2 separate regions of the Homo sapiens genome follow, and region 2 is linked to region 1. Evidence: fine-mapped expression QTL. A gene starts in region 1. The other region holds a variant in brackets. All regions are shown on one strand. Distances are between the middles of the regions. Region 1 holds the start of ZFYVE26 (zinc finger FYVE-type containing 26). Region 2 overlaps RAD51B (RAD51 paralog B).

What was found.
Region 2: its variant is fine-mapped to the expression of ZFYVE26 in whole blood (TOPMed, PIP above 0.99).

What each region holds. Positions count from the first base shown.
Region 1 is chr14:67,812,793-67,829,086 of GRCh38, reverse strand. It overlaps ZFYVE26 (zinc finger FYVE-type containing 26), which reads left to right and starts at 12,497. Exons shown (of 42, transcript NM_015346.4): 1 at 12,497-12,553; 2 at 13,041-13,317; 3 at 15,023-15,101. The coding sequence starts at 13,124. It overlaps RAD51B (RAD51 paralog B), which reads right to left and starts at 9,308. Exons shown (of 11, transcript NM_133510.4): 1 at 9,234-9,308; 2 at 5,460-5,545; 3 at 3,510-3,623. The coding sequence starts at 5,543. RefSeq lists enhancers at 8,160-8,921, 9,181-9,475, 11,966-12,065, 12,116-12,285.
Region 2 is chr14:67,998,763-68,015,056 of GRCh38, reverse strand. All of the region lies in intron 7 of RAD51B (RAD51 paralog B), which reads right to left. Among named protein-coding and RNA genes, the nearest start is that of RAD51B, 190 kb to the right of the region's middle. The variant C/T (reference allele first, on the strand shown) is at 7,426.

The DNA of each region.
Region 1 (16,294 bases):
AATGGCCATATTGCCCAAAGTAATTTATAGATTCAATGCTATTCCCATTAAACTACCATTCACATTCTTCACAGAATTTTAAAAAGCTATTTTAAAATTCATATGAAACCAAAAAGGAGCCTGTATAGCCAAGACAATCCAAAGCAAAAAGAATGAAGCTGCAGGCATCATGCTATCCAACTTCAAACTATACTACAAGACTCTAGTAACCAAAACAGTATGGTACTGATACAAAAACAGACACATAGACCAATGGAACAGAAGAACTCAGAAATAAGACCGCACACCTACAACCATCTTATCTTCAACAAACCTGATAAAAACAAGCAATGGGGAAAGGATTGCCTATTTAACAAATGATGCTGGGAGAACTGACTAGCCATATGAGGAAACTGAAACTGGACCCCTTCCTTACACTTTACACAAAAATTGACTCAAAATGGATTAAAGACTTGAATGTAAAATCCAAAACTATAGGAAAAAAAACAAAACCTTGAAGAAAATCTAGGCAATACCATTCAGAACATAGGCACAAGCAAAGATATCATGACAAAAATGCCAAAAGTAATTGGAACAAAAGCAAAATTGACAAGTGGGATCTAATTAAACTAAAGAGCTTCTGCATAGCAAAAGAAACTATCATGGTAGAAAATGGGAGAAAATTTTTTCAATCTATCCATCCGACAAAGGTCTAATATCCAGACTCTATAAGGAACTTAAACAAATTTACAAGAAAAAAAAAACCAAACAACCCCATTAAAAAGTGGGCTAAGAACATGAACAGATACTTTTCAAAAGAAGACATTCATGCAGCCAACAAACATAGAAAAAAAAAGCTCAACATCACTGATCATTAGAGAAATGCACATCAAAATCACAATGAGATACCATCTCACACCAATCAGAATGGCAATTACTAAAAAGTCAAGAAACAACAGATGCTGGTGAGGTTGCAGACTAATAGGAATGCTTTTACACTGTTGGTGGGAGTGTAAATTAATTCAACCATCGTGGAAGACAGTGTGGCAATTCCTCAAAGACCTAGAGGCAGAAATACCATTTGAACCAGCAATGCCGTTACCAGGTATATACCCAAAGGAATACAAATCATTCTATTATAAATATACATGCACACATATGTTCATTGCAGCACTATTCACAATAGCAAAGACATGAAATCAACCCAAATGCCCATCAATGATAGACTGAATAAAGAAAATGTGGTACGTATACACAATGGAATACTGTGCAGCCATAAAAAGGAATGAGATTATGTCCTTTGCAGGGGCATGGATGGAGTTGGAAGCCATCATCCTCAGCAAACTAATGCAAGAACAGAAAACCAAAAACTGTGTGTTCTCACTTATAAGTGGGAGCTGAACGATGAGAACACATGGACACATGGACACACGGAAGGGAACAACACACATTGGGGCCTGTTGCGAGGTTGTGGGGGAGAGGGAGAGCTTCAGGAAGAATAGCTAATGGACGCTGAGCTTAATACCTAGGTGATAGGATGATCCATACAGCAAACCACCATGGCACACATTTACCTATGTAACAAACCTGCACATCCTGCACATGTACCCCGGAACTTACAATAAAAGTTGGAAAAAAAAAAAACTAAGCCAGTGTTTAGGGCAGTGCTGAAATATAAGGAATGCTACAAGAATGAATGTAAACCATAGGAGAAAGATGGTTTCTTGAACTGTATTTGGAATTGTATTAAGATGGCAGCTGAAGGTAGTGATGGAAGTAGAAATTAAAGTTGAATTTCGGGACCATGCTCTCTATTTATTAACGGGAAATATGCCATGGATATTGACTAATTAGAATGACAGATGACAAATTAAAGGTTTTTCTGGTGCTTTACAACCTTCAAAATAATAACAAGTTAATTTGAATCTAGTCACAGAATCATTGCATAGTATTTTAACTTCTGTTTTCTCCCATAAAAGAAAGCTGTTCAAGCAATGAAATCAATGATAAAGCTAAGACTAATGCCAGTTTCTAACTCCAGTTCTGATTCTCCTTCTGACTATCCTGTCTTTAAAATATTTTCCTCAGATCACAAGCTAAATCTGAACAAAAGAAAATATCTGTTGTTTGGCCAGGCACAGTGGCTGATGTAATCCCAGCACTTGGGGAGGCCGAGGCGGGAGGATCACTTGAGCTCATAAGTTCAAGAACAGTCTAGGCTATGTGGCAAAACCCCATCTCTACAAAAAACACAAAACGTAGTTGGGCATGGTGGTGTGCACCTGTAGTCCCAGCCACTCGGGAGGCTGCGGTGGGAGGATGGCTTGAGCCCAGGAGGCGGAGGCTGCACTGAGCCGAGATCACACCACCGTACTCCAGCCAGAGAAATAGAGACAGACCTCATCTCAAAAAAAAAAAAAAGAAAGAAAATATCTGTTGTTCAAATATCTGTTCATTGTTTTTAGAAGTTTCCAGTGACACTAACATTCCTTCCTTCTCCCCTTCTTCAGAGAATTGTACTTCATTGTTCAGTGTTCAGTAAATTTCAATATAAGGCAGTAAGGTAAGAAACTTACAGTCCACATAAATAAATACATTTGCAAAGCACCGAACAGAATTTTAGGAAACTCTTACTGTGAGAAAACAAGATATTTCTATCATGCTCCAAATCTACATTTTGAAAAGCTACAGTCATGACACAAAAAGTCTGAAAAAATGTACAATTTGATGAGGGCTTTTGTAAAAGACTTCAAATTTTCTTAAGAGTAAAGGATAAATTTTTAATTACCTTTTATTCAATCAATAAGCAACTACAAGTACAATTATGTGTACTTTATGATCTAGAGCAAGTGATGATGGTAAAGGTCAGTATATCAAAGAAAGGGGCATTCTAAAATTAAGATTATAATTTAACTATGAGGCCATCAAATACTACCTAATCAATCAGAGAAAGATGACCTTTTGAACTACTGCTATTGGCTATAGAAAAAAAAATAAAAACTTTCTGTTGCTCCCTAATTCCCATATTTAGAAATTGTCTCCCATGAGTTTATAAACTACATAAATTTTTCACACATAGGCTAGGCACGGTGGCTCACGCCTGTAATCCCAGGACTTTGGGAGGTCGACGCAAGCAGATCACTTGAGGTCAGAAGTTTGAGACCAGCCTGGCCAATAAGGTGAAATCCCATCTCTACTAATAATATAAAAATAAGTTGGCTTGGTAGCACCGTGCCTGTAATCCCAGCTACTCAGGAGGCTGAGGCAGGAGAATCGCTTGAACCCAGGAGGCAGAGGCTACAGTGAGCCGAGATCGTGCAACTGCCCTCCAGCCTGGGCAACAGAGCGTCTCAAAAAAGAAAAAAAAAATTTTCACATGTATTTTCCTTAGAGAACTAACTTCTATAGTAGAAAACTCAGTATTTTTGAGGTACTCATCTCTATTTCTGCATGTGCCTCATCCCTAAAAAAACATGTTTAATGAGATGAGGAATCATTCATAATCAAATCATAATAAAATATAAATATACCGTTTGCATCTTTGGGGCACAGGCCCTGCTGACCATACATAGAAGTTCATGGACACCTCGATAACTCAGACCAGTCACCTTCATAAGCTCCAGTGGGGAAAGACATAAAAAGTCCTAAAGAAACATAAAGAGAGTATTTTAAACATATATGTGTAACAAAGATACTAGAGTTAAAAGGAAACCTTCAATTGATACTGCTTATGTAGACAAAAGTATAATTTATCGCAGATCAAAGATTTATACATTCATTGTAGTATTTTCCCCATAAATATGCCTTAACTAAAAGTTGTAATGACACAAACTTATCTTCTAATTATCCTGTTTAGTTGGCATATACCAGAGGATACACCAAATAATATCACATAGCACCAGCATCCAATCCAGGTGCGTATGAGCGCTACACTTGTGCCAAAAAGAATTTGGGTATAAATATATGCCCAGAAAGTGTCAGGTTGAAAGAGTTTCTTTCCTTTTTTTTTTTTTTTTTTTTTTTTTTTTTGAGACAAGAGTTTTGCTCTGTCGCCCAGGCTGGAGTGCAGTGGCACGATCTCGGCTCACTGCAACCTCCACCTCCTGGGTTCAAGCGATTCTTCTGCCTGAGACTCCTGAGTAGCTGGGACTACAGGCACTCACTACCATGCCTGGCTAATTTTTTTTATTTTTAGTAGAGACAAGAGTTCACCATATTGGCCAGGCTAGTCTCGAACTCCTGACCTCATGATCTGCCCACCTCGGCCTCCCAAAGTGCTGGGATTACAGGTGTGAGCCACCGTGCCCGGCCGAAAGAGTTTCTTTCTAAGCTAGAAGTTCACTCAGAGATAATATTTCGTAGTTGAAAAAGAATGAAACTGACTATAGGATGAAATAACAAATTTCATACTTTTAAGAATGTTTCCGAGTATAAATATGCAAATAATTAAATGTATAACAAAGGAACCGATGTTATCTTTAACACAGAAAGCAATTCAAAAAAAAAATTGCAGAATGCTCTGTGAAAATGTCTTATTAAAGATAAAATCAGGCCAGGCACGGTGGCTCATGTCTGTAATGCTAGCACTTTGGGAGGCTGAGGGAGGCGGATCACTTGAGATCAGGAATTTGAGACTAGCCTGGCCAACATGGTGAAACCCCGTTTCTACTAAAAATCCAAAAATTAGCTGGGTGTGGTGGCATGTGCCTGTAATCCCAGCTACTCAGGAGATGGAAGCAGGAGAATCACTTGAACCGGGGAGGAGGAGATTGCAGTGAGCCGATATGGCACCACTGTACTCCAGCCTGGGCAACAGAGTGAGACACTGACTCTAAACAAACAAACAAAAAAAGGATAAAATCCTAAGATAAAACCTTAAATCTAGCCAGGCACAGTGGTGTGTGCCTGTAATCCCAGCTAGCTGGGAGTTGAGGCTGGAGGATTGCTTAAGGCCAGGAGTTCAAGATCAGCTGGGGCAGCATGAGAACCTAGTCTCAAAAACAACAAAGAACAAAAACAACCAACCAAAACCTTTAAATCTTATTTACCCTGCTAAGGAGGATTTGCTTCACCACCTTGCTTAAAAATGCAAGATCCGCTCTATATATTTCTCATGCTCCATCAATAAGAAAATGGTCTATTAATTTCTTTTGCTTTTAAGAGAAATGATACATGTTGAATAGTATCTCCTCATTTGAGTCCTATTTCTCATGTAACTATAAAACAGTAAAGCTGTTACTTCACCTTATGCCGTGACCACTTTCCCCTCAAAATGCAAAAATACTAAATTTGGGTAAATGAAATAGCAGTTGGAAATGCACCCAAGGAGGCTTGATATTTACAATTAGCCTATGGAAAAGCACCATCATTTATCTTTTTTTTGTAAGCCTACATTTTCATATTTCAAGTTTAAGAGGTATTAAGGTATAAAGTTAACTTGTGCATAAAACTTATCAATAAAAATGTTAAATAAAATTTACCTGACAGGTAAGGATCTGATGTCTACTCAGACGGTCACACAGCTCTTGTGATAAACCCACTCGTTTTAGTTTCTTGCTACCCATGCCTCCAGATCCAGCAAAGAAAAGAAGAACCATGAAAAAAACAACAGAATATAACATAAGTGATAGTGAATAGGCTATCCAAAACAAAATTAAAAATTCCTCAAGTTTCTCCATATGCAAAATGAAACATATTGTGTTAAAAATATTACTGATAAAGGAATGCTATAGAACCTTTTTAAATGTTTTAAATAGGAGGGACAATTGTTCGTCAAACAGGCACATAGAAAATCTACAAGGCAACCTCAAATATAATTTCACACAATTAATTGATATTTACTACATGAATATAGTACCACTTCACATTTGTAGAGCATCTTAAAATGTTCAATGCATGTATAAATTTTATTTGGAAATGTAATTAACTTTCAAGGCATATTTCCAAACAGAACTACTAGAAAGTCTATTGCACTGTAACAATTTACATTGCACTGTAACGGCAATAGGTATATTTATGGAGCACCTACCACATACCAGGCACTGTTCCAAAACTTATCTAAATTATCACATTTAATCTTCTCAATAGCCCTAGAAGGAAAGTAGATTATTGGCCCCTTTTTTACATATGAGAAAACTAAAGCCTGGAAAAGTTAGCTAGTCCATTGTCACCAGAAAACATAAATAACTGATCCAGAATTTGAATCCAGGCAGTCTAATTCTGAAACCTATCCTCTTAACCATTACACTCTACTGCAAGTCCATAATCATATTTAACTCTTCCTTTTTCTAGGAGTCAGAGCACACCTTCTGAATCAAATGAGATTTTATCACTGCAGTATTAAAATGTTCTTTTTAAATATATATATAGAGAGAGAGAGAGAGAGCGAGACAGGTCTGGCTCTGTCACCCCAGCTGGAGTGCAGTGGCTCGATCTCAGCTCACTGCAACCTCCCCCTCCTGGGCTCAAGCAATCCTCCTACCTCAGCCTCCCAAGTAGCTGGGACCACAAGCGTGCACCACCATGTCTGGCTAATTTTTGTATTTTTTGTAGAGACAGGGTCGACACCATGCCTGCCCAATTTTTGTATTTTTTGTAGAGACAGGGTTTTGCCATGTTGCCCAAGCTGGTCTCGAACTCCTGGGCTCAAGTGATCCTCTCGCCTTGACCTCCTAAAGTGCTGGGATTACAGGCATGAGCGATCAGACCTGGCCCAAAATGTTCTTTATTACACTAGCTGCTTATATTCTCACATGCAGTTAAATTTCACTATTGTACCTTGCTAGGGGTAAATGAGGCTCATGAAAGATTTATCTTCACAGAGCTAAAAAAGAATTACTGTGAGTCTCTTAATGCATACAAAGGAGAAGCTGTATATCTCATTGAGATGGTAAAGAAGTATCCTCTGGAACGAACTGAAACAGGAACTCTTCATGGATCCAAGGAATAAAGCAATATAGTTATCAGAAAAGAAGTAACATTTTGGAATGAAAATATATGTATACTGAGAATGTATATATTTGTTTATTTCCAATACCATGGCCCAAATTTCTATTTAACACCTAAATTCTCTGAATCAGACTGAATCAATCTCTCTCTCTCACACACACACACACGCACACACAATATACATACATACACACCTCTCACAAACAAAAATACATCCTCCTCATTTCTCTCCATGGGAATTTGTTAGCAATGACTTGTTTCCCCCAGTAGAAAACCAAGTGATACCTGCTATAATATTGCCTAGTGTCTTTTCAGATCAGGTAGTTTCAAGTAATGACACCATTTAGACTGATAAATTCAATTTAAAAAAAAAAAGAAGGAGAAAGAAAAGAACCATAGGCCACACAAGGTAGCTCACGCCTACAATCCCAGCACTTTGGGAGGCTAAGGCAGGCAAATTGCTTGAGCCCAGGAGTTTGAGACCAGCCTGGGCAACATAGAGAGAACCTGTCTCCACAAAAAAATACAAAAATTAGCTGGGCATTGTGCCGCACACCTGTAGTAGTCCTAGCTACCCAGGAGGCTGAGATGAGAGGATCACCTGAGCCCAGGAGGTCGAGCCTGCAGTGAGCTGTGGTCATGCCACTGCACTCTAGCCTGGGGAACAGACTGAGACCCTATCAAAAACAAAAAACAAACAAACAAAAAACTATAAATTCTAAACTACAAGGACTTTAACAACAACCAATTCTGCCATTTCTGCCTTAATAGGGCCACTCCCATCACTTGCCTGGACTATTGCATATTGTTTCTGGCCACTCCATTCATTTGTTCCTTAATTTACTCCTTCCACAGGCATTTAAATACACACCCTGCTGAGGTCTGGGGTACAAGAATCATTTAAGCATATTCCCTCCCCTTTGAATACTCATAGTTGAGATGAAAAGAGAGGTACACACAAATAACTACAGCCATGCAGTAAGCATTACAATTGCTATTTAAAAGTGCTATGGAAGCAGACAGGAAGAAGCCCCAAATTCGCCTGCAAAAGTCAGATCAGTGTCACAATCCTGCCTTGAGTAGCTTCCTAAAAAGTCACGATTATCCTTTAACACTTCCCATGGGACTGGTAGACCACAGGATAAATTCCAAACTTCTTAGGGTCGCAGAGAAAAACATCAAAAATTGGTCCCTCACTTCCTTCTCACTCATACATCACATTGCAACGTTCAGTTCCTATCCTTCCTGGCAGTTACTTCACCTCTCAGTGTCTTAATTTCCTTAAAACCCTTGTTTTACAGTCATATGAATTTACTACTTCATATGACTGTAGTGGAGGTTAAAGGACTCGGGGAGTGCGTGGCACATAGTACTTAAGGTCAGCAATCATCATTTAATGACTCTCACATGATCTGCCCTCCAGCCACATGGTATGTGTATTGGTAGGTCACGCATCCTGTCTCCCTGACTTCCCTCCACAAAACCTTCCCCAGAGTCAAGTCTTTTCCTCTCCAATGTTCTCATCAACTTCGCACATATCTATTCGATAATCTTATCAAAATACTATTATGGCTTGCAAGTTTGTTTGCCCCCACCGGAGCACGTAAATTCCTGCGGTGTATGTGTGCGCGAAAGCACGTATGTGTATTGCACATGAGGGGAGACGGTCAACCCTGGAGAATGAACCCTGTCCTCCTTACCACCAAGAAAAGAAAATTCTTCATGTTAGATGTTCAACAACTGTTTAGGAACAATATTAGCTAATATTTATTGAGCCCTTATTACGTGCCACACTGTTCCAAAGGCTTCGGATATTTTACCTCACTTTACAGATAAGGATACTGAGGTAACTAGTTGAGAAACTTGGGCAAAGTTAAACAGCTGACAATTGGTGTGAAGCTCGCATTCGAATCCAGGGACCGGACTCCAGATTCCACGCTCTCCAACACCACCTGAAGTGGGAGAGTCCCTCAACTTCCCCTAATGACAGGCTGCCCGAAGCGGGAAGGGGCTGGGGAGGAAGATGGGCAGCAACAGGCGGAAACATCACCCAGAATCCCCTAAAAAGAGCTTTTTCCAACAATGAGCAGCTTCCAAGCATTCCCCACCAAAAGAAGGCCCGAAGCTCCCCCAATTCACAGCGGGGTTCTTAGTGACGATCCCGAGTCTTAAGGGGGCGTGACCAGCACCCAAGAGAAAATCTCCGCTCCCCCAATATCGAAACCCACGAGCCTAGGGAAGGAGCAGGAAATAATGAGCGAACCCCACTTCCCCACAACGGCACCCCACATGAAACTTTCCAGTACCGGGTCTGCAGCATCCAACTTTCAAGTTTCCCCACCCTTTACACAGTTTCCCCGCGGAAAACGCCGCAAAGCAACAACCGAAGCACTGATTGAGTCGTCATTCTGGCTACTGTATCCAATCAGAGGCCGGCAGAGGCCCAGGTTGGCTCCGCGGCTTGCTGGGAATTGTAGTTAATACTATGATCAGCCTAACAGATCGAATCTGAAGCAGTTTCTCAATATAGTGATTATCAAAATCTGTTGCAGGACCATCACCAAAGAGAATGTGAAACAAGGGAACACCCTGTTTGGAAATTTTTCTTTTTTCTTTCTTTTTTTTTTTTTTTGAGACGGGGTCTCGCTCTGTCGCCCAGGCTGGAGTGCAGTGGCGCGATCTCGGCTCACTGCAAGCTCCGCCTCCTGGGTTCACGCCATTCTCCTGCCTCAACCTCCCTAGTAGCTGGGACTACAGGCTCCCACCACCACGCCCGGCTAATTTTTTTGTATTTTTAGTAGAGACGGGGTTTCACCGTGTTAGCCAGGATGGTCTCGATTTCCTGACCTCGTGATCCGCCCGCTTCGGCCTCCCAAAGCGCTGGGATTACAGGCGTGATCCACCGCTCTCGGCCCTGGAAATCTTTTTTTTCGTGTATCATCACTTTTCACAATGGCTTAAAGGGGCCAGACGCAGTGGCTCACGCCCGTAATTTCAGCACTTTGGGAGACCGAGGCGGGAGGATCACTTGAGCCTGGGAGTTCGAGACTAGCCTTGGCAACATAGTGAGACACCCTCCCCCACCCCTCCGCCTCTACAAAAAAATACAAAAAATAGGCTGGGCGCGGTGGCTCATGCCTGTAATCCCAGCACTTTTGAAACTGCCCGATGGGTTCACCTTACCAGCTGCCTAGACAGAACCGATTTATCAGGACAGGGGAATTGCAATGCAGAAAGAGTAATTCACGCAGAGCCAGCTGTGCGGAAGACTGAAGTTTTATTGTTACTTAAATCAGTTGTCCCGAGCATTTGCGGATCGGAGTTTTTACCAATAATTTGGCTGGTAGGGGCTTAGGAAGTGGGGAGTGCTGATTGGTCAGGTTGGAGATGGAATCATAAGGGGTCGAAGTGAGGTTTTCTTAATGTCTTCTGTTCCTGGGTGTGATGGCAAAACTGGTTGCGCCAAATTACTGGTCTGAGTGGTGTCAGCTGATCCATGGAGTGCAGGGTCTACAAAATATCTCAAGCACTGATCTTAGGGCTTGCAATAGTGATGTCACCCCCGGGAGCAATTTGGGGAGGTTCAGACTCTTGGAGCCAGAGGCTGCATGACCTCTAAACTGTAATTTCTAAACTTGTAGCTAATTTGTTAGTCCTGCAAAGGCAGACTGGTCCCCAGGCAAGAAGTGGGTCTTTTCGGAAAGGGCTGTTATCAATTTTGTTTCAGAGTCAAACCATGAACTGAATTCCTCCCCAAAGTTAGTTCAGCCTACGCCCAGGAATGAACAAGGACAGCTTAACGGTTAGAAGCAAGATAGAGTCGGTTAGGTCTGATTTCTTTCACTGTCATAATTTCCTCAGTTATAATTTTGCAAAGGCGGTTTCACTTCGGAATGCTGAGGCAGGCAGATCACTTGAGCTCAGGATTTCGAAACCAGCCTGGCCAACATGGCGAAACCCCGCCTCTACTAAACATACAAAAATTAGCCAGACATGGTGGCAGGCACCTGTGATCCCAGCTACTTGGGAGGCTGAGGTGAGAGGAGCCAGACATTGCCTCAAAAAAAAAAAAAACCTTAATGGGCCAGAAAGCCATGTTACTTTTCTCAGGAATCGAGGACAATCCACCAATCACAGAAGAGTTTTTGGAAGAAAACGTTTTGTTTGTTTTAACTTGCTCTTTTCACCACCCTTTGGTGATTAAATAGTTTGGGAAATGCTGAATGAAATTACTAAACCTGAAACACACATAGTGAGGAAAGCTGAGAGTCTGTGATTAAAGCACACCAGGGAAACCAAACAAAAGGCTTGGTGTAAGGCAGCTGTGGTGAGCAAACCTAGTAAGCCGTTACTTCAAGAGTTGGTTTCAGGCTGGGAACGGTGGCTCACGCCCGTAATCCCAGAACTTTGGGAGGCCGAGGTGGGCGGATTGCCTGAGGTCAGGAGTTCGAGACCAGCCTGGCCAACATGGTGAACCCCTGTCTCTATTAAAAATACAAAAATTAGCCGGGTGTGGTGGCGCGCGCCTGTAAATCCCAGCTACTCAGTGAGGCTGAGGCAGAAGAATCGCTTATCCCAGCTACACAGTGAGGCTGAGGCAGGAGAATCGCTTAAACCCGGGAGACGGAGGTTGCAGCGAGCCGAGATCGCGCCATTGCACTCCAGCCTGGGAGACAGAGCGAGACTCTGTCTCAAAACAAAAGACTTGGTTTCAGATTATTGTGTTTGCGAAAAAGCCTTTGCTCATTCTTTGCTCTCTGATCTCTTATGCATACTTCTGTCTTATAATTTAGCCCACCGTCTCCTAATTTTTGGCCTGCATCTCCCTTGAGAAGAAGGACCTCCATTTACTCAACTTAGAGAATAGGGCCTAAGCCCGGTGTAGTGGCGCGCGCCTCTAGTCCCAGCTACTACAGGAAGGCTGAGGCTTAAGGATTACTTGATCCAGGAAGTTCGAGGCTGCCATGAGCCGAGATCACACCACCGCACTCCAGCGACAGAGAGACTCTGTCTCTAAAAAAATAAAATAAAGCCTAGCACACCGTTCAATTAACAGTTGTAGGGTAAATGTGCAAATAAATGAATGGAGTGAAGCAGAAGAATATGGAAATTCAGACCGCAGAGTTCCGGAACAAAAGAGCCCAGTAGATAGAATAATAATGGAGGAGAACCCAGTTCTCCTAGCTCCGGGTATCCCCCGCGCCTGGCAAAACACCATCACTGGTTGGCGTTCAATAAATGTTGACTTCACATGTTAAGGAGATAAGAGAGTGGAAGAAAAAAAAAAATCCAGGGTCACAGTTCTTCCTGCCACCTGCTCGGCCGAATGCAGAACTGAAAGTATTGAGCGCCGGAGCTGTCACAATTGAGGGAGATGGTCCGCAGCCAGGTAGCTGATTTCCTCTTTCCGAGCTTTCTAGCTTTCCCTACTCCCGGAGAGGTGGCGTCACGTGACTCAAACAAATATGGCACTTAATTTTCATCTTCCCTGCCTTGAGCCAATAGGAGTGGGGCTTTCAGTCTTTGTCACCACCCCCACCACCGCTGTTCGGAGTGGGTTCTGTCACCTGACTCGGCTCAAACATGGCTGCGCTGAGAGCTCTATTGCTTTGGGCGCCGGGAGCAGGTGAGTGTAAGACACCCCTGAGAGGGAGGGGCCCCTCTCCACGACCCCCGCAGAGAGCGTCCCTGCGGCCCACCCCCACACTGCTTTCCACTTATGACACAGATTCGTCTCCTGGTCGTCAATCCTCTGCCTTAACAGAGGGCTCAAACTAGGGAGGTTCCTGCTGAATTTCTCATTCTTGAGGAGGCGACCACCTGGGGATTTGGAGTCAAGACTGGGCATAACGTTCAGTAGGGAATACGGACGTAGAGTTATGGGTCTGCGCCCGGAGCAAATATGACTATTAATATTATTAAATATAGGAATCCGCGTGAAGAGATGGGATCCACCCCTTGAAGAAAGTGTTTTCAAAAAGTAACGTGGGAAATTAAACTGAAAACGATACTTAGGCAAGCAAGTCCCGCCTTTCCCAGGCGGACCAGTAGTTGCTGCTTTGTCTTAATACAGTGCCTTCTGTTTCTTCTCACTGGCGTTGTGTTGTTTCTAGGAGGTACTCCGCGAATGAGAACATTGAGAATGTGTTCGGCATAACTCATTTCTTTGTATCTCCCTGCACTCTGTGCTGGGAAAATGAATCATCCATTTGGAAAAGAGGAAGCTGCTTCGCAGAAGCAGCTTTTTGGATTTTTCTGCGAATGCCTGCGGAGGGGAGAATGGGAGCTGGCACAGGCATGTGTACCTCAGCTACAGGAGGGACAAGGGGATATCCCAAAGAGGGTAGAAGACATACTTCAGGCATTGGTGGTGTGTCCAAATCTGCTGAGGTAAGGGATCTCTTTTCCTACCAGACGGTCCCAGGGTGAGAGACATGTGGTTCAATATTTGGGCATTGGTCAATGTGCCCCCACTCAACTACCCTCTGAAGAATAAGCAGAGGCACAGTGTATTTCACGTGCTCTGAAATTTTACCTCTATAGTATACATCCATTACTTAGTCAATATTGGCTTTTGATTATCATCTGCAACTGAATGTAAGCCTGGCTGCCAAAGTGTGCCTGAAACTGCCATTTCTTGTTTATCCTCGTTAATATAGATGGTGGAACTGCATTGAAAACTATTTTCTTTGCCTCCAAAAAAGCAAACCCTGCTCTCTTCTTGCTTATGAGATTGAAAATATTGTTGTCGCTTTACTTAAAACTTTTTATTTCGAAATAATTGCAGTCTCACAAGAAGCTGCAAAAATAATGGAGTCCAGCGTATCCTTTTCCCAGTCTGCCCCAATTGCGACGTCTCATACAGCTGTAGTACAATATCAAAACCATGAAATTGACATTGGCACATTACTTTAAATGACACTACAGAGTTTATTTGGTTTTCAGCATTTTCTTAATCTGCCTTCATTTTTTCATTTGTAGTTTTATGCAGTTTTATCCATATATAGATTCATGTAATCCCACTGTAATAAGGATCAGAACTGTTCCATTACCACAAAAGAATTCCCTCACTCCTTGGTGCTACCTCTTTGTATTTATACAACAACCCCTCCTTGTTCCCTGGCAACCACAGTTCTCCATCCTTGATTTTCAATGAAGTTCCTCCTGGTGATGCTAGTAACCACTGGTGATGTAGGAGTCAAATGTACCGTTTTAAGTCTTTCCTTGGGTTTTCCTTCCTTTGACTGTTATGCTATACTGTTTACATATTGTATTAGCACATATACGATGGAGAAACTTAAGTGATCCCTTCCTTTTCTTTTTCTCCTTTAATTTGAGATCTAGCCAGTTACCGTCTAAATTCCTAACTTCAAAGAAAGGCTTATGAATTCCTAAAGTCCTGTTTTTAGCATATAGTTAAAAATAAATTTGTATGAAGTTCCTTTTTTAAGACTGTCTGATTCACTTTCTGTATTAAAAATATGCTTCAGATAGTATTAGCTATTATGGTTTTCTCGAATATTATTTTATTTTAAACTAAGATAAGGAGGTGGAGGTGAGATTAAGGCTTTTTATGAAAGCTGCTAGCTCTGTTCTGGTTCTGATTTGTTTGTTTGTTTGTTTGTTTGTTTGTTTGTTTTGGAGACAGAGTCTTGCTCTGTCACCCAGGCTGGAGTGCAGTGGCATGATCTAGGCTCACTGCAACCTCCGCCTCCCAGGTTCAAGCGATTCTCCTGCCTCAGCCTCCCGAGTAGCTGGGACTACAGGCGCCTGCCACCGCACTTGGCTAATTTTTGTATTTTTAGTAGAGATGGGGTTTCATTATGTTGGCCAGGTTGGTCTCGAACTCGTGACCACAGGTGATCCACCCACCTCAGCCTCCCAAAGTGCTGAGATTACCGGTGTGAGCCACCTTGCCTGGCCTGGTTCCAATGTTTTACTGAACTGTCATATACATTTAAAAATATCTCATTAGGGCAGTGTCTTGCCTGTTCAGGTTTAAAACAGAATAAGCAATGAAATCTGTCTTGGATGACAAAAGATGAAAGATCAGTAGAAACTCTTTTTTACAAGTCTTTCTTTTTACCTTTTTCAGATGTGGGCAGGACATCAACCCTCAAAGAGTAGCCTGGGTCTGGCTTCTTGTACTGGAGAAATGGTTGGCCCGGGAAAAGGTAAGTAGGTTTATATTAAATTTTCCTCCGAGGCCAGGACTGAGAAGAACTTGAAAGTAGTTGTGGGATTTCCCTTCTGTCTGTTACTTCCTTTATCATTAAATTCATCATACTCATTCTCAAAGAATGGCTTAAATTTTTATTGCTGTCTCCTTACCTAAATTCATTCATTAATGCACTAATATACATTGGCATATATTACTGTTTGTTAAATACCACCATGAGTCTTGTGCCTAAAGAGAACTTTTGGAAACTCAGTGAAGGTAACAAAATAGCAAATAAAATATGAATCTGTAACATTTGGATCTATTCAACATTTAAGTAATAGAGAATGGGCTGAGCTGAAACTTGGTTTTTCTTCCAAAAATCATATTTTAACTAGCCTAATTCCATGACATCTCATAGATTCAAATTCCATTAATTCATAGTTTAATAATTCACATGAATTGAACAGAAAATTACCAGATATAAAAACAAGTAAGCAAATTAATATTGAAAAAAAAAACCTGGTAAGGAATTACCTTTTTTAAAGATAAACTTCCATTAAAAGTCCTTTTAGAAGTATGTTAATTATCAGAAATTTATATCTTATAAAAGAATTACTCTGAGACATTTTCATATTGAACTTCAGACTTTGAGATTTAAGTGAAGAACCTCTAACTTAGAAATGACTGGCCCAAGGACACACCGTAAAGTTATTTGACAGAGCTGGTGCTGAAACCAAGATCTTCTGACCTCAATCCTCTGCTTTTTCCACCTTAACACTACTTTTTTAGCCCAGATGGACTTTAAGAAACCACAAATTCTACTTTTAAAATGTCTGTAATTTCGCCAGTTTTTTAAATTTTTGCTCCTCTCGGTCACCAGAATTAATTTTGTCTTTGGTTCCACTTTTGCATGATATTTATCGTTCCTCACAGAGCTGTCAAAAAGTAACAGAAATTGCTAATCTGAATGTATCTCTTATCCAGGATTTAGCCAGTTGTTTAGGAAAGAAAAATGACAGAAAGACTAGTAGGAGCGAGAAGAAAGAAAAACAAGATTGAAACATAATGAAACCCAGCATCATTAAGAGTTGGCTATGGTTTCAGATTTAAAAGAGAAAACTTGAACTAAAATAGTAACCTATAGTTACTATAGTATCTTCAAAGAGAAAAAGAACTATTGTTACTGATTAAGGGATCTCTCTAGTA
Region 2 (16,294 bases), 190 kb before region 1:
GATTGCACAGATGGCAGGAGGGCTGGGTTTAAAACCCAGTCAGCCTAACTCTGGAGCTCCTGCCCTTCACCATGCCTCCACACCCCCTCTCAAATAAACAAAGCATCCCGGGTGGCCCTAGTGGGTAGGGTTTGGCACTCTCAAATAAGTGACTGAGCAGTAAACAAGATAGCAATGAATCCACATGCTCCTTTTTTTTTTTTTTTTGCATTCATTCTTATATTGTTTCCAAGTCAAAAAGTAATAATGAATGCTCCTAAATTACGTATTCCAATCAATGTAATCAGTTCATTCACATTCAGAATAGTACAGGTCTCTATCTTAGATTCCTACATTTATTTATTTATTTATTTATTTATTTTTACTGATCCTTAAATTTAAACAAATAAGTGAGTCTCAAATTTGGCAAGTTTTGACCATACAAATTTCTCCATGATCTCCTAATCAAATATTGTTTTTAAAGAATACCCAAAATTTGCCAATTAGAAAGAAAAACACTATTTAAATATTCAAAAAAGATGTTAAACACTCCACCTGAGTTTTGATAATCCAACAAGAATATGCTTCTATCTGGTAACTTGTACTTGCTATACAGTGATGAGTAGAGAGTAGGAGATATGGTGTAACTGTGTCACAAATGTACCAGGGTAAAAGTCACTCTGGCACATCCTGAAGATAGCACTAATGGGTTCTGAGAGACAAAGAAGACTGAAATGCTTCAAAGCAACTTGCTCAGAGACTGATAAATCTCCAAAGCAGAATCAACAAATGTAAAAAAACAGGGCTTGCATGTCCAACAATAACTCATACAAAGTTACCTTCCTCCATCAACTGTTAATGGGAAAAAAAAAAAAAAAGAAAGAAAAGAAAAGGAGAGGGAGAGAGAAAAGGCAATCTTTGTCCCTGATAAAATATCTTCATAATAATGGAGATTTAAAAATAACGCAAATTACTAACCTTACCAAAAATCAGTTCTGATTTCAATGCCAATGAAGGAAAACATAGCCATTAGGTAATATTATCACAACAAGACCAAGATATTGTATTTATTCTCATAAAAGGACATGGAACTAATTTATAAATCAAGTTTGGTCAGTCAGTCCTGCATTATTATCAAATAAAATATTTGATAACATGTACTCATCTGGGCACTGCTTCATGAAAAAATTCTGACTTATTTATCACATCCCAATTCTAAGAATATGGAAGGATGAGCTCCTGGATGCCTGACCTTTGTACTTATTTAAGACATTACTTAATAGAAACTGCACCTCTCAAGTCTATTCTAATATGATGCATGCAGGAAATGCAAATTTGCATCCAAAATATTTAATGTTTAAATAATACTAGACAAGTTTTTAAAATCATAGTAAATTATTTGTTGTCCATCAAGAGCAGAGAAAGTTATATTCTACGTAATACAATATTCTGATTTAGTTTCCTCATCTGTAAAATAAGACTGTTATGGATTAAATGAATTAATATTTGTTTAGTATTTACAGTAGTCCCTAGCATATAGATTAAATGCTACATAAGCAATTATTAAATAAAGTAATATCATTGTGGCAGATCATATTTCCAAAAATGGCTTCAGCCGTATTTCTGGTCCAGCATGCTCTTCCAGAATCTTGCCAACCCCACCCATCACATGGTAGAGTCTATTTCTCTCCTCTTGAACCTAGGGGGATTTCTAATTATTCTGGCCAACAGAGCAAAATAGAAATAATGTTCTGTGACTTCCAAGGCTCTGTCATAAGAAGGATATAGCTTCTGCCTATCTTTCTCTTTTTGAAATGTTTGCTCTGAGGAACCCAGACACTCTACTTAAGGAAGCCCAAACTAGTTCATTTGGAGACATCACATGGAAAGACCCATGTGGAGAGGAACTGGGGCCAACAGCCAGTGACATCTGCCAGACATATAAATGAATGAATGATTATAGTGCCTAGCCTTTGAGGTTCCAGCCTCAAACACTGTGGAACTAAGAGAAGCCATTCCTGCTGTGCCCTGTCCGAATTCCTGACCCACAGAATCTGTGAGCATAATAACTGATTGCTTTGTGCCACTAAGTTGTGGGGTAATCTGTTACACAGCCACAGGAATGGGAACAATAAAACTGCTATACTTTTAAAATTTGCATTGCAACTAAAATCAAAAAGATTTTTAAAAGACTTACAAAATTAAACATAATGCAAATAGAGCAGAGAATAAACAGAAGATACACACATAAAACAAAGTTGAAACAACTGTCAGGCATCTGACATATAACAACAGCAACAGCTAACAAAACAGTTATTGTCCTCCATGTGTAAGAAGCACCACAAAAAGTTATGATTTAATGCTCCCAATAACCCTATAAGGATACTGTTATATTTTTATTTTATATACCACATGCAAATAAGAAATAAAATATCCTAACACTAAATAAGAAATAAAATACCCTAACACTAAGACTATAATTTCATCCTGCTTTGTTGCTGGCACGTTTTGAATGCTGGTAGTAAACTATTACTACTAATATAGACCAGGGTTTGGCAAACTTTATCTTAAAGGGCCAGATAATAAATATTTTAGACTTTGAGGGCTCTCTCTCCTCTCTCGCTCTCTCTAGATATATATATATAAAATTCTTTGTTTTATGTTTGTTACAATCACTTAAAACTATAAACCCATTCTTAACTTGTGAGTGCTACAATAACACGCTGTGCACCAGTCGTGAGCCACAGTTTGCCTGACAGACCATGGTAGAGAAATGTTAATACTATAAGTTTAAATTAATAAACCCATCTTTATTATAATACTCATAATAGCATCTACAGTTATATGAAATTAAGAAAACACACTTTCTTGCTCTAGCTTATTATTATCCACTAAAAGTACAAGCTTCCCTGAACTAGGTCAGTAAATGAAAATCTAGACCGAAGAATCCATTATTTCCATTACAATAAATGTCTCTTCATAATTGACATTTATCTACTTTGAAAAGGTCTAGGATACTGTCTGAAAGAAATTATTTTTCTAGGGTCTAACGGCTTCTCCAGGCATCCACATAGATATCTCTGTGTTTGTTTATTGAGATTCATGACAGCCCAGTGTGATTGATAAAACACTGAACACTTCTAACCTTTAGTGTCGATGCTTTGCAAGAAAATGTTTATTATTCTTGGCAGGAAATGATGGAAACTGGTGAGAAACAGCCAGACTAACTTCATATGTAAGTGAACTGGAATTTTTAGGGAACAGTTCCCTCTAGTAAATTTGTCTACACACAGCTTAATCAAGCAAATTTACAGCTGTTAACAGGTTGTGCCGCTGTATTCCTGAACATATAAATAAACTTCTTAATCAGAACAAAAACAGGTTCAGAGTCCAGTTGTTTAAACTGGAACTGGTACAGCCAGTACCTAACTGTAGTTAAAGCAACTGTCAAAAAGAATCATAATCAAAGTAGAAAAAAGTTGTTTTTCTGTTTCCTCAAAGCTACGAAGATGCTGCTCAGTGAACACTTCTGTGATCATCTAAACTCAAAGCTACATGACCTCATTTGAAGTAAGATGCCCAAACTAATGACAAATCAAACAAATGTGTTTTCTAACCAAGGTTCCAAATTAGGAAAAAGCTAATTACTTAAATTTAAATTGGAAGGGAAAAATTTTGGGGAGCCTGTTAATCAGAAGGCTCTTAGAAACTGGAATGGATATGGGAGTGAGGAAATGAACTCATCTGTATAAAAAATGTTTATTCACTTTGACCAGGAATGTAAAAGTAAATAAATTTACGTAAGTAAAAAATAACAAGTAAAGGTTCATATACACCCCTCTTTACAGACTGAGAGTAGATATGAGTTGATTACTGGTAAATAAGGTGTTGCACACACTATGTTGATAGAAATGGGATGCCCTGCAGAACTAATTAAAACAGTCATCAGAAAACCAATCCAATCATTAAAAATTCATACTAAAAATTAACATCCTCTATTTTGGTAAATCCTTGGAAAATTAGAAGTATTATTTCAAAATATCTGATTTTTTTCACTATTTTGTATGACTCACTACCTTTCTTTCATCCAAAAGATTATCCAAACTACAAAGAAACTTATATCCTTTGTACAATACAAATACAAATATAAGTACAGACAAAACAGCTAAACACACAGAAAACCCACAAAATAGCACTTTGGAACCTACATTACTGTATAATTGAAAAAGCCCTATTTATTATAAATTCGCTTAAAAAATGTCATGCCCTATATAAAACCTAAATTTTACAATAGATACCTAAATTCTGTAATATCTACTAAATTCTACCTTTCTCCAAATTATTCCAATATGACTTCAAACTAAGTGTCCATAGTATAAGCTGATCAGAAGAAACAGCTCAGTTGTATACATTTTCAAAGTAATGGAATAAGACCCAATCTCATTAAAAATAATAACATTTTACAAGAATATCTATAAGCATCTGAATTCTTCTGACACAAGAAATATTTTTATATTAACAAAACAGAATCCATTACTCTAAAATCTTATATATTTGTATTAGAAAAACAGGGAGAAATTGGGTCTGAATAAATAAAATGAATAAATGATACAGGACCCCAAACAACTATCAGTTTTTCTAATGAAGCTCTCTCTGATGAGCCAAGGTTTCAATGATCTTTTTATCTGAATTTCTATAAATCTGTGGACTAAATCACGTATAATCAGTTGATTATATATTGACTTGCATTAAAGTTATTTCTTATTTTTCTCTGTACTTTAAAAATCATTTTAATCTCATAGCAAGCTAACTACATCTATAAGCAATTTTTACACCAAGTACTCACCTCCTTACAACTCTCCTTAGTGCTATGGAAAGGTAGGTTCCAATTAGATATAAAGAGATTTGAATATCATTTAATTCAATGGATTATGGGAAGCCATTGAAAAAGAATGAAATGATAATAGCATATTTGAAGAGCAGTAAGCTAGATGTTTTGTGCAGGTTGAGGAACTGGAGGAAAACAAAACAAAATTGAGAAACTACTCAATTGTTCACAAAACAGGTGGCAGTTAACTGAATTAGTGTAGTGAAAAAAGAAGTGGAAATAAGCATAGAAACAAATGAATAGGTTGAAGGAGCCTAGAAATAAACAGTCACAAGCTGGTAATTTATTACATATGAGAATAAGATAGAATAGTCTAAGATAATTAATTTCAGTTAAACAAACATTTATGAAGACCCTAATTTTTGCAAGGCACTCGAAAATATAAAAATAAATTGATGTTACTACTTAGCAGTCAGTAAAGTATTATGAAGAAAAATAAAGCAGGAAAAAATAGAGAAAACTAAAGGGTGCTATTTTATAGAAGAGGTCGTCTAGCAAGTTCTCTCTAGTGAGGTGATGCTTGAGCAGGGAACTAAATAAAGCATGGGGATAAGCTATATGGATATTCATGTTGGAAGAAGTTCCCAGTAGAAGGAACGAATATTAGGAGCTATTATGTAGCAAACCCTACACTAGACACTAAAAATACATGAGTGAACCAAAAAGGTACATGTATTCCAGGATTTTACATTACTGTAAATAAATGAAGAAAAACATAATGTCTTGGAAGTGAAAACTTCCATGAAGAAAAGGCAAAAAGATAAGGAAATAGAAAGTGATGAATGATAGTGCTGTTATTTCTACTTTACAGATAAGGATATTGAGAAGTTAAATACAAACTGATAAATTAGAGAGCAGGTATTTAAACCCACAAAGTCTCACTTCTAAGCTCATTCTTTTATTTACTATGCCATTCTCTCCCTCTGTACTATAAAATCTCCAGTGAAAACCACAAAATGGCAAAAATCACAGTCCATTCTTTGTTACACCCCTAATCAGTATGATAGCATACAGGGGATGCAAAATAAGATTGAATTGACTCTGATTTCCACCGTAGATATAATATTAAAACTCCATTACAATTAAAGAAGCCACAATCCTGAAACTAGGGAGATGGCTCTTCTTATTTAGGGAAATCCCATTCAACAACAACAATAGTTTTTTAAAAATGTATCATTTAAAGGTAAAAGTGATAGGTTTCTAAGGAGATCAGAGTGAAAGAGAACTACTCAAATGGGCCTGCTGCGTATCTCTACGACAGCAAACTATTTACACGGCCTTGGCAAATGGTGGGATGAGAGACTATAATCAATGAGGGAGGAAAAAACAAAGTTATCACTACACAGATGTAAAGTGAACTAGTGACAAGTTAGCAATACGTATCAGGACTCATTGACACTATTTGCCCAAGTATTTTCTTCCTCATAAATCTTCAGGATTTAAAGTATTTCATTTCAACACTGCTTCCTATCACTTAGCAAACTAGTTCACAACTGTCAACACTTTAAACTCATAAACCAAAGGAAGAAAATCCCAGGGCCAATGGGAAAAGGTCTCACTGCACCATAATAATCCATTTAATCTATCTTATTTATAATTATTTTACTTCTTTCCCTAGTTAGAGAGCAATACATATTTAATCTTAAAAATCTGGGAAATTCAGAACTACATAAAGGAGAAAATAAATATCAACCTTAATTACACCGCCCGAAGGTAATCACTGTCAATATGATGGAATGTTTATTTTCACTCTTATTTCTGTGTGTGTGTGGTGGTGGAGGTTTTTGTGTGGGTGAATGTTGCTTTTTATGAATTGTTATCATACATTTTACACAGCTTTGTATCTTACTACTTTTCACTTAACATTAACATTATATGAAGATCAATTTGTCTATATTTTAAAATATAAATTTTAACAATGGTAAAATATTGTACTATATGTAATTAACCATCCTCTTGCTGATTATAAATTTATGCCATTAAAGATGATACTGGCATGAGTATCACTGTATGTAATCTATATGCAAAATAATGATTATTTTCTCAGAAAAAATTCCAAGAAGTAAAACTACTGATTCAAATTATATAGACATATTCTATATAATTTTATAATGTTGCCAAATATCCTCTACAAAGGTAATCAATTTACATTTCCTATGTTACCTGAGAGTTTCACCCCATACTCACCCACAAAAAAAATCATATTTTTAAAAATATAATACGCAAAAAAGTCATCATTCCAATTTGCATTTATTTCAGTAATGTAATTTGCTTTTTCTTTATTTTTTTACTATTAGCTACTTGTTTTTCTTCCCTGTGAATTCCTTTTTGTATTATTTGGCCATTTTTCTATTTGGAAGTTAGCATTTTTACTCTCATTAACATAAAGGAACACTTCATATGGAGATATTTGCCCTTTATCAACACACATAATATAAGTATCTCTATAAAGAACTCTTACAACTCAACAATAAAAAGACAAATTACCCAATTAAACAAGAGGCAAAGGCTCTGAAAAGACAGTTTGCCAAAGAAGAGATGTAAATATCCAATCAGCA[C/T]ATGAAAATCTGCTCAACATCATTAGACATTAGGAAAATGAAAATCAAAACCATGATATACCACTTCATACTCGTTAGAATAGCAGGTATAATTTTTTTTTTAATTTGTAAGGAAAATAAAAAGCGTTGATAAAAGTGTGAAGAAATTGGAACCTCACACAGTGCTAATGGTGCAGCTACTGAGAAAAACAGTTCGGCAGTTCCTCAAATAGTTAAACATAGGATTACTATAGAACCCAGCAATTCTACTCCCAGATATAGAGTCAAGAGAATTAAAAGCACATGTCCAAACAAAACGTAGATACAAGTATTCATAGCAGCACTATTGATAATAGACAAAAAGTAAAACTGAGTCAAATAACCATCAAATAAAATGTGGTATATCCATACACTGAAATATTATTTGACCATACATAAAAGAAAATAAGCATAAATACATGTTGTAATATAGATGAGCCTTGAAAACATTATACTAAGTAAAAGAAACCAAGCACAAAAGATCACATTTGTATAGCTATATTTATATGAAAGGTCCAGAATAGACGAATACACAGTGACAGAAAACTAATAGATTAGAGGGTGCCAGGAGCTGGGGGAAAGCAGGAATCTGGAGTGACTACTAAGGGTTTTTTCTGGGATGATGAAAATGTTCTGGAGTTATATACTGGTAGTGATCGCACAACTCCATGAATAAAGTAAAAACCACTGAACTGTACACTTTAAAATGGTGAATTTTATTGCATGTCATTTATATCTCAATTTCTAAAAGACTTAAAACATTAAAAATGGAACATAAACATAAAAGTTAATACTCTATCATCAGCCCAGGAGTTTATAAGACCAGAAATTCCACTTTATGTATTTATCCTAATTTCAGCTTTGCTTGGTACAGCAAAAGACTAGCAGTAATTCAAATTCCTATCAATAAAAAATTGGGTAAATATATTATCACATAATATTATTAAATACTATGAAAGTATTTTTTAAATGATGCACTCCTTATATAATGAAATGCAAGGATTTCCAAGAAATATTAAGTGAAGAAAATAAGGTACAAAACAGTATGTAAAGTATGCTACCAGTTATATTAAAAATACACACACATCCTCATATATACTTGTATATGCAATATTTAAAGCGATAGCAACTAATAATTTTCTAGAATAATTGAAAGGATACCAAAAATAGATTAAACAACTTTTTATCAGTAGGTTTAAAAATTAAGATAAATCAACAACTTTCTGGAAAAATGTTATTAAAAAGATCTCAAAAGGAAATAGAAAGTTTGGATAACTATTTAAAAACTGAGTAACTAATAAAAATATACCCATAGAGAAGCTAGTTGTAGTACATAAAATCAACAAAGAATTGGTATTTATAATATATAAAGAACTTCTGCATGTCATTAAGAAAAAGGCAGACAACTCAAATGGACAAAAACTTGAGTAGGCACTTGGTATGGTTTGGATCTGTGTCCCACCCAAATCTTACGTTCAAGTATAATCCCCAATGTTGGAGGTGGGGCCTGGTGGAAGGTGTTTGAATCATGGAGGTGGATCCTTCATAAATGGTTTAGCACCATCACTTTGGTGCTGTTCTCCTCATAGAGTTCTCACGACACCTGGTTGTTTAAAAGTGTTATCACCTCCTTCCTCTCTCTCTTCCTCCTGCTAAAAGTGTAGAGCACATCCCTCCTCTCTCTCTTCCACCTGCCATGTAAGATGCACCTGCTTCCCCTTTGTCTTTTGCCATGATTCAAAGTTTCTTGAGGCCTCCCCAGAAGCCGTTATGCTTCCTGTACAGCCTATGGAACCATAAGCCAGTTAAACTTCTTTTCTTTATAAATTACCCAGTATTAGGTATTTCTTTATAGCATGTCGAGAAGCAATACATCACTTCACCAAAATTATACAAATAACCAATAAGTATATGAAAAAAGTGTTTAATGTGCTTAATCATCAAAGAAAGGCAAGTTAACAGCATACTACATGTTATTCAATATACCCACTAGAGTAGCTAAAATATAGTAGTTAAATACGAAGCCCAACAAGAATGTGCAGCAACCAGTACTCCAACACTGCTGGTAAGAATATAAATTAGTTCAACAACTTAACTGTTTGGCAACATCACTAAGCTAAATACATGCATAACTGATGACCCAATAATTCAACTCCTAGGTTGAAAGAAATGTGCAAATAAGTCCACCAAAATGTCCATAGCAGCCCTATTTACACTAGGCTAAAACTAGAAGGCATGCAAAACTCCATTATCAGTAGAATGGGCCAGGCATGGTGGCTCACGCCTGTAATCCCAGCACTTTGGGAGGTCGAGGCAGGCAGATCATGAAGTCAGGAGTTCGAGATCAGCCTGACTAACATGGTGAAACCCCACCTCAATTAAAAATACAAAAATTAGCTGGGCGTGGTGGCATGCACCTGTAATCCCAGCTGCCCAGGAGCCTGAGGCAGGAGAATTGTTTGAACGTGGGATGCGGAGGTTGCAGTGAGCTGAGATCTGCCATTGCACTCCAGCCTGGGCAACAGAGAGAGACACTGTCTCAAAAAAAAAAAAAAAAAAAAAAAAAAACACACACACACACAGTAGAATGGTAGAATGGATACATAAATATGTAATATGTTCTATTGTATGAATAATCACAAAATAGTATACTGCACAGCAAACAGAATGAACCACAACTACACAATACAACATGATGAATCTCACAAATACACTACAGAGTGAAAAAGGCCATATACCAAAAAAAAAGCATTCTGTATAATTTCATCTGTATACAGTTCAAAAACGAACCAAACCCCCCTAAAATACACAGTTTAGAAACTGGAGTAGGTGGTCACCCTCAGAAAAGGCAGTGGCTGAAAGGGCACACAGTGGGGGCTTCTGGGACATTGGTAATTTTTTGTTTCTTCATCTGGATTCTGGTTACATGAGATTGTTCAGTTTGTGAAAATTCATTGAGCTACAGCTACATTTATCATTTGTGCAATTTTCCCATAAATACATTATATTTCAATTTATAAATTATTTTTAAAAGCCCTCCTACTTAGAAACTCCATCAAGTATGGAGGATGTGGAAATAAGTTTTACCATATCTTCATGATGAGAAAATCCTATGTTATAAAAATTTTTCCAGAGAATAGAAAATGAAGAAAGCTGCTGAGCTTCTTCTATAATCTAGAAAGAAAAATCGGTACTACAAACAAAAACTACAAGGAATTCTTAAACAAAATAGTAACAAAAAAATCCACCAATATATTCTTTTTTTTTTTTTTTTTTTTTTTGAGACGGAGTCTTGCTGTGTTGCCCAGGCTGGAGTGCAGTGGCGCGATCTCAGCTCACTGCAACCTCCACCTCCCGGGTTCACGCCGTTCTCCTGCCTCAGCGTCCCGAGTAGCTGGGACTACAGGCACCCGCCACCACACCTGGCTAATTTCTTTTTGTATTTTTAGTAGAGACAGGGTTTCACCGTGTCAGCCAGGATGGTCTTGATCTCCAGACCTTGTGATCCGCCCACCTCGGCCTCCCAAAGTGCTGGGATTACAGCAATATATTCTTTTTAAATAACTAAGTATAGTTTATTTGGCAATGCAAGGATGATTTAACACTACAAAAGCCATTAACATAATCTACCACATTAATGGGATAAAAAAGCCATATGATTTATCTTAGTAGATATTAAAAATTACAAAATTTTACTGGCAAACTCAATCCAGCAGCACATCAAAAAGTTTATCCACCACAATCAAGTAGGCTTCATCCGTGGGATGCAAAGTTGGTTCAACATATGCAAATCAATAAATGTAATTCATCACATAAATAGAACTAGAAAAAAACCACGATTATCTCAACAGATGCAGAAAAGGCCTTCAATAAAATTCAACATCCTTTCATGTTTAAACTCTCAATAAACTAGGTATTGAAGAAACATACCTCAAAATAATAAAAGCCATGTATGACAAACCCACAGCCAATATCATACTGAATGGGCAAAAGCTGGAAGCATTCCCCTTGAAAACTGCCACAAGACAAGGATGCCCTCTCTCACCTTTCCTATTCAATGTAGTACTGGAAGTTCTGGCCAGGGAAACAGGCAAGAGAAAGAAATAAAGGATATTCGAATAGGAAGAGAGGAAGTCAAACTATCTTTGTTTGCAAATGGCATGATCCTATACCTAGAAAACACCATCCTCTCAACCCAAAAGCTTCTTACGCTGATAAGCAACTTCAGCAAAGTCTCAGGATATAAAAATCAATGTGCAAAAATTGCTAGTATTCCTATACACAAACAGGCAATCCAAGAGCCAAATCATGAATGAACTCCCATTCACAATTGCTACAAAGAAAATAAAATACCCAGGCTAACAAGGGAAGTGAAGGACCTCTTCAAGGAGAACTATAAAGCACTGCTCAAAGAAATCACAGATGACACAAACAAATGGAAACATATCCCATGCTCATGGATAGGAAGAATCAATATCATGTAAATGACCATACTGTCCAAAGCAATTTACAGATTCAATGCTGTTCCCGTTAAACTACCATTGACATCCTTCACAGAATTAGAAAACACTATTTAAAAATTCATATGGAACCAAAAAAGAGCCTGAATACCCAAGACAATCCTAAGCAAAAAGAACAAAGCTAGAGACATCACACTACCTGACTTCAAACTATATTATAAGGCAACAGTAACTAAAACAGCATGGTACTGGTACAAGAACAGACATATAGACCAATGGAACAGAATAGAGAACCCAGGAATAAGACCACACACCTATAACCATCTGATCTTCAAGAAATCTGACAAAAACAAGCAATGGGAAAAGGAGTCCCTATTTAATAGGTGGTGCTGGGAGAACTGGCTAGCCACATGCAGAAAATTGAAACTGGACTCCTTCCTTACACCATATACAAAAATCAACTCGAGATTAATTAAAGACTTAAATGTAAAACCCTGACTATAAAAACCCAAGAAGAAAATCTTGGCAATACCATTCAGCAGATAGGCACAGGCAAAGATTTCATGATGAAGATGCCAAAAGCAATTGCAACAAAAGCAAAACTTGACAAATGAGATCTAATTGAAGAGCTTCTGCACAGCAAAAGAAACTATCATCAAGCTGATTATAGTTTCTAACAGAATGGCAGAAAATTTTTGCAATATATCTGTCTGACAAAGGTCTAACATCCAGCATCTACAAGGAACTTAAACAAATTTACAAGGAAAAAAAAACATTAAAAAGTAGGCAAAGGACATGAACAGACACTTCTCAAAAGAAGATATACATGCAGCTAACAAATATATAACAAAAAGCTCCACATCATTGATCATTGGAGAAATGCAAATCAAAACCACAATGGCTCACATCAGTCAGAATGACTATTATTAAAAAGTCAAAAAACAACAGATGCTGGCAAGGTTGCAGAGAAAAAGGAACACTTTTACACTGTTGGTGGGAGTGTAAATTAGTTCAGCCATTGTAGAACACAGTATGGCGATTCCTCAAAGACCTAGAGGCAGAAATACCATTTGACCCAGCAATCCCATTACTGCTTATATACCCAAAGGAATATAAATCATTCTGTTATAAAGATACATACATACATATGATCACTGCACCACTATACACAATAGCAAAGACATGGAATCAACCTAAATGTCCATCAGTGATAGACTGGATTAAGAAAATGTGGTACGTATACACCATGGAATACTATGCAGCCATAAAAAAATTGAGACCATGTCCTTTGCAGGGACACGGATGGAACTGGAGGCCATTATCCTCGGCAAACTAATGTAGGAACAGAAAACCAAACGCCACATGTTCTCGCTTGTAAGTAGGAGCTGGATGATGAGAACACAGGGACACATGGAGGGGAACAATACATAGTGGGGCCTTGGATGGTGGGGGATGGGAAGAGGGAGAGCATCAGGAAGAATAGCTAACAGATGCTGGGCTTAATACCTAGGTAATGAGATGATCTATGCAGCAAACCACCATGGCATACATTTGCCTATGCAACAAACCTGCACATCCTGCACATGCACCCCTGAGCTTAAAAGTTGAAAATCAAATAAATAAATAAATAAATAAACTCCATTACCTTTTTGAGTCTCTACTGCCTTGTCCATTAAAAGAGGACCCTAATAAACTAGAAATTTCCAAAATAAAAAAGTATAAAATTTTACATTGATTCATCACTTAAGAAAAAAGCTTCCACCAATATAGCAAGAAAAATAAACTTTCTAAAATGAAAAATGATATATTGGAGTCTCCGGAAATCAGGAATAAGAAAAAATCCCACTATGACACTTCTATTCAAGAATAAAGAAGTATGAGGTTTGGAATAGAAGAAAAACTGCTACTGCATATATGATTCCATAGAAAATATACGATAGTTTGCAAGCCATTTTAATAAGCATGCAAAGCAGTTTTGCTGGACTTTAAATATAAAAATCAATTTTCTGATCCAAGAACTGATTGGATTACATAATAAAAACAGATCCCATTTTTTAAAAACTATTAAAAACCCATGAATAAATCTAACCAAATTATGATTTGTAAGATCTTTGAGGACAAAAGTCTATAATATTATAGAATACCTAAATAGAGAAATAAACCATTTTCATAAATGAAAAGATTCAATATTATAAATACATAAATTCTCCCCAATTTATGAATTCGATGTAATTCTAATAAAAACACAAGAGGATCTTTGGTGAGAACTTATCACAGAGAGGCAGAGAAACAGACTTCCAAATAATGGTTCTCAGAGACAGAGGATAAAGACTTTTTAAAAACTGAAATCCACATGGTCAAGGGTGATATCTGATTTTTGCTTTTCTCATTTCCGGTCTCATCATTTTCAGGGATAATAGCCCTTCTCCATGAGGCTTATTTTTTCCAAAACATTCCATAGCTTCAGAAAACAAACCAAACAATTACAGACCTAAAGGTCAGATAAAAGTTACCCACTGGAAAAGTGAAGTAAACTCAATCCAAGAAGCCAGCTGATTTTTAACAATGCAAAACACTAATAATTTAAAAGAGAAAAAAAATCTTAACAGGACATATTTTAACCTCAATGAAATAAAATACTTAAGTTTAGAATTCCCTAGTAAAAGATATGTAGAAAGTATATTAGTTATACACTTTATAAAACCCTTGACAGTATTTGTACTAAATGCGAACATACCAGAGTCTAAGAAAAGTCTTTATAGTACTGTCACATTATCAATCACTTGGAAAACCTAGGAAATCAATTTTTACAGGGCAAGAAAGAAAAATATGGAAGTTACCCAAAGAAGCAGATAACAGAGAAAAGCAATTCAGCAAATTCTTGGAAACTCGGGAATGAGCTCTGGAGTTTAATATTAATGAAATGATCGGCTTAGACTATCAACGTAAAGCAGTCTTGAATAGTGGTTAAGAAAAGATCAGCCCACAGGAATTTTCCACAGGCATTCCCAAATTTATTAGTCATGGCAATAAATAGGAATGGCCTAAGGAAGTATACTTTTACTATGGGGTTAGACTTTCTGTTTGTTCTTTTTTTCTTCATTTTTACATTCCTACTACTAGTTTTTTGTTGTCTTTTTGTTTGTTTGTTTGTTTTTAAGACCTAAATTGCTTTTCCTAAGGTTCTGGACTATGCTGACATTCATAAGTGTATTTACAGCCTTCCCCACGTTTTACACCTTTGAGCCCTTGCTCATTTAGTTCCTTAAAAGTAGAATGTCCTTGGAACCCATCTAACACATATCAAAACCCTACTCCACCTTCAAGGCACAATTTAAATATCATTTCCTCCCTGAAGATTTCTATAGTAATAATAAAAATTAACTGCTCCTCTATCCTATGTGTATTCTAACGGGAAATAAACCTAATACTTAATGAACCTCTATGATATGCCAAGTCAAGTGCTTTATAAAAGAATTTTAATTTAACCTTCTCAGAAGTCCTATAACGTACTATTATCTCCATTCTGCAGTTGGAAAACTAAAGATGTGAGAGGTTGCATAATACAATAGTAAGTCATGGAGTTGGGATTTAACCAAAGCCTATCTGATTTCAAAGTCTATGGCCTTTATATAATTTCATGCTGCCTTTATCACAAACTGACTTGGAATGTGTTGTTTATATACCAGTCCACTCTTGTAGGTCATGAGATCTTTGAAGACAAAGGCACTATCCCATTTGGGTTTTAATCCTCCTATGCTAGCACAGTGCCTAATATGTATCATATAGCACTCTAGTGCTGCCTGAAATCATGTGAAGAAATTAGTACAGCATTTATTTTCCTCATATAATGAGCTTCTATGTAGCCTCATGACCATAAAAAATAAGTACCTGGACTTCCAGCTATAACAGAATAACTAGTACCAGATCTGTCCTACTGTAAACACTGAAAAAACTGGAAAAATATACAAAAAAGTTACTGTCACACCTCAGACAAAAGTTAGTGTTAAGACTGTGATCCCTGAGAAAAGGAAAATGAACAAGGTCGCCCTGATGTCTGTCTGGAAGCACTTTCTGGAATGCACCACAAGGAATGATAACCCCAAGCAGAGTACAGAGGTCTTACTAAGTTAGGGTGACAGAGTTCAGAGTTTAAAGAGGAGGAAAGAGATGGACTCTTCAGGGCAGAGTGCTAAAGAGGAAGAGCTATGCAGAGAAGAGCTCAGGAAATCTACACAGGGTTCCCCTTGAGACTATGACTGAAAATTAAGCTGCACATACATAGAGTAAATTCCATAAGAACAAACAAAGTACCATGAATGTTAATCTAAATAATTCCCAGTACTCATATAAGACTGTGAGACATTTTGACAAGGTAAAGGAGAGAGACC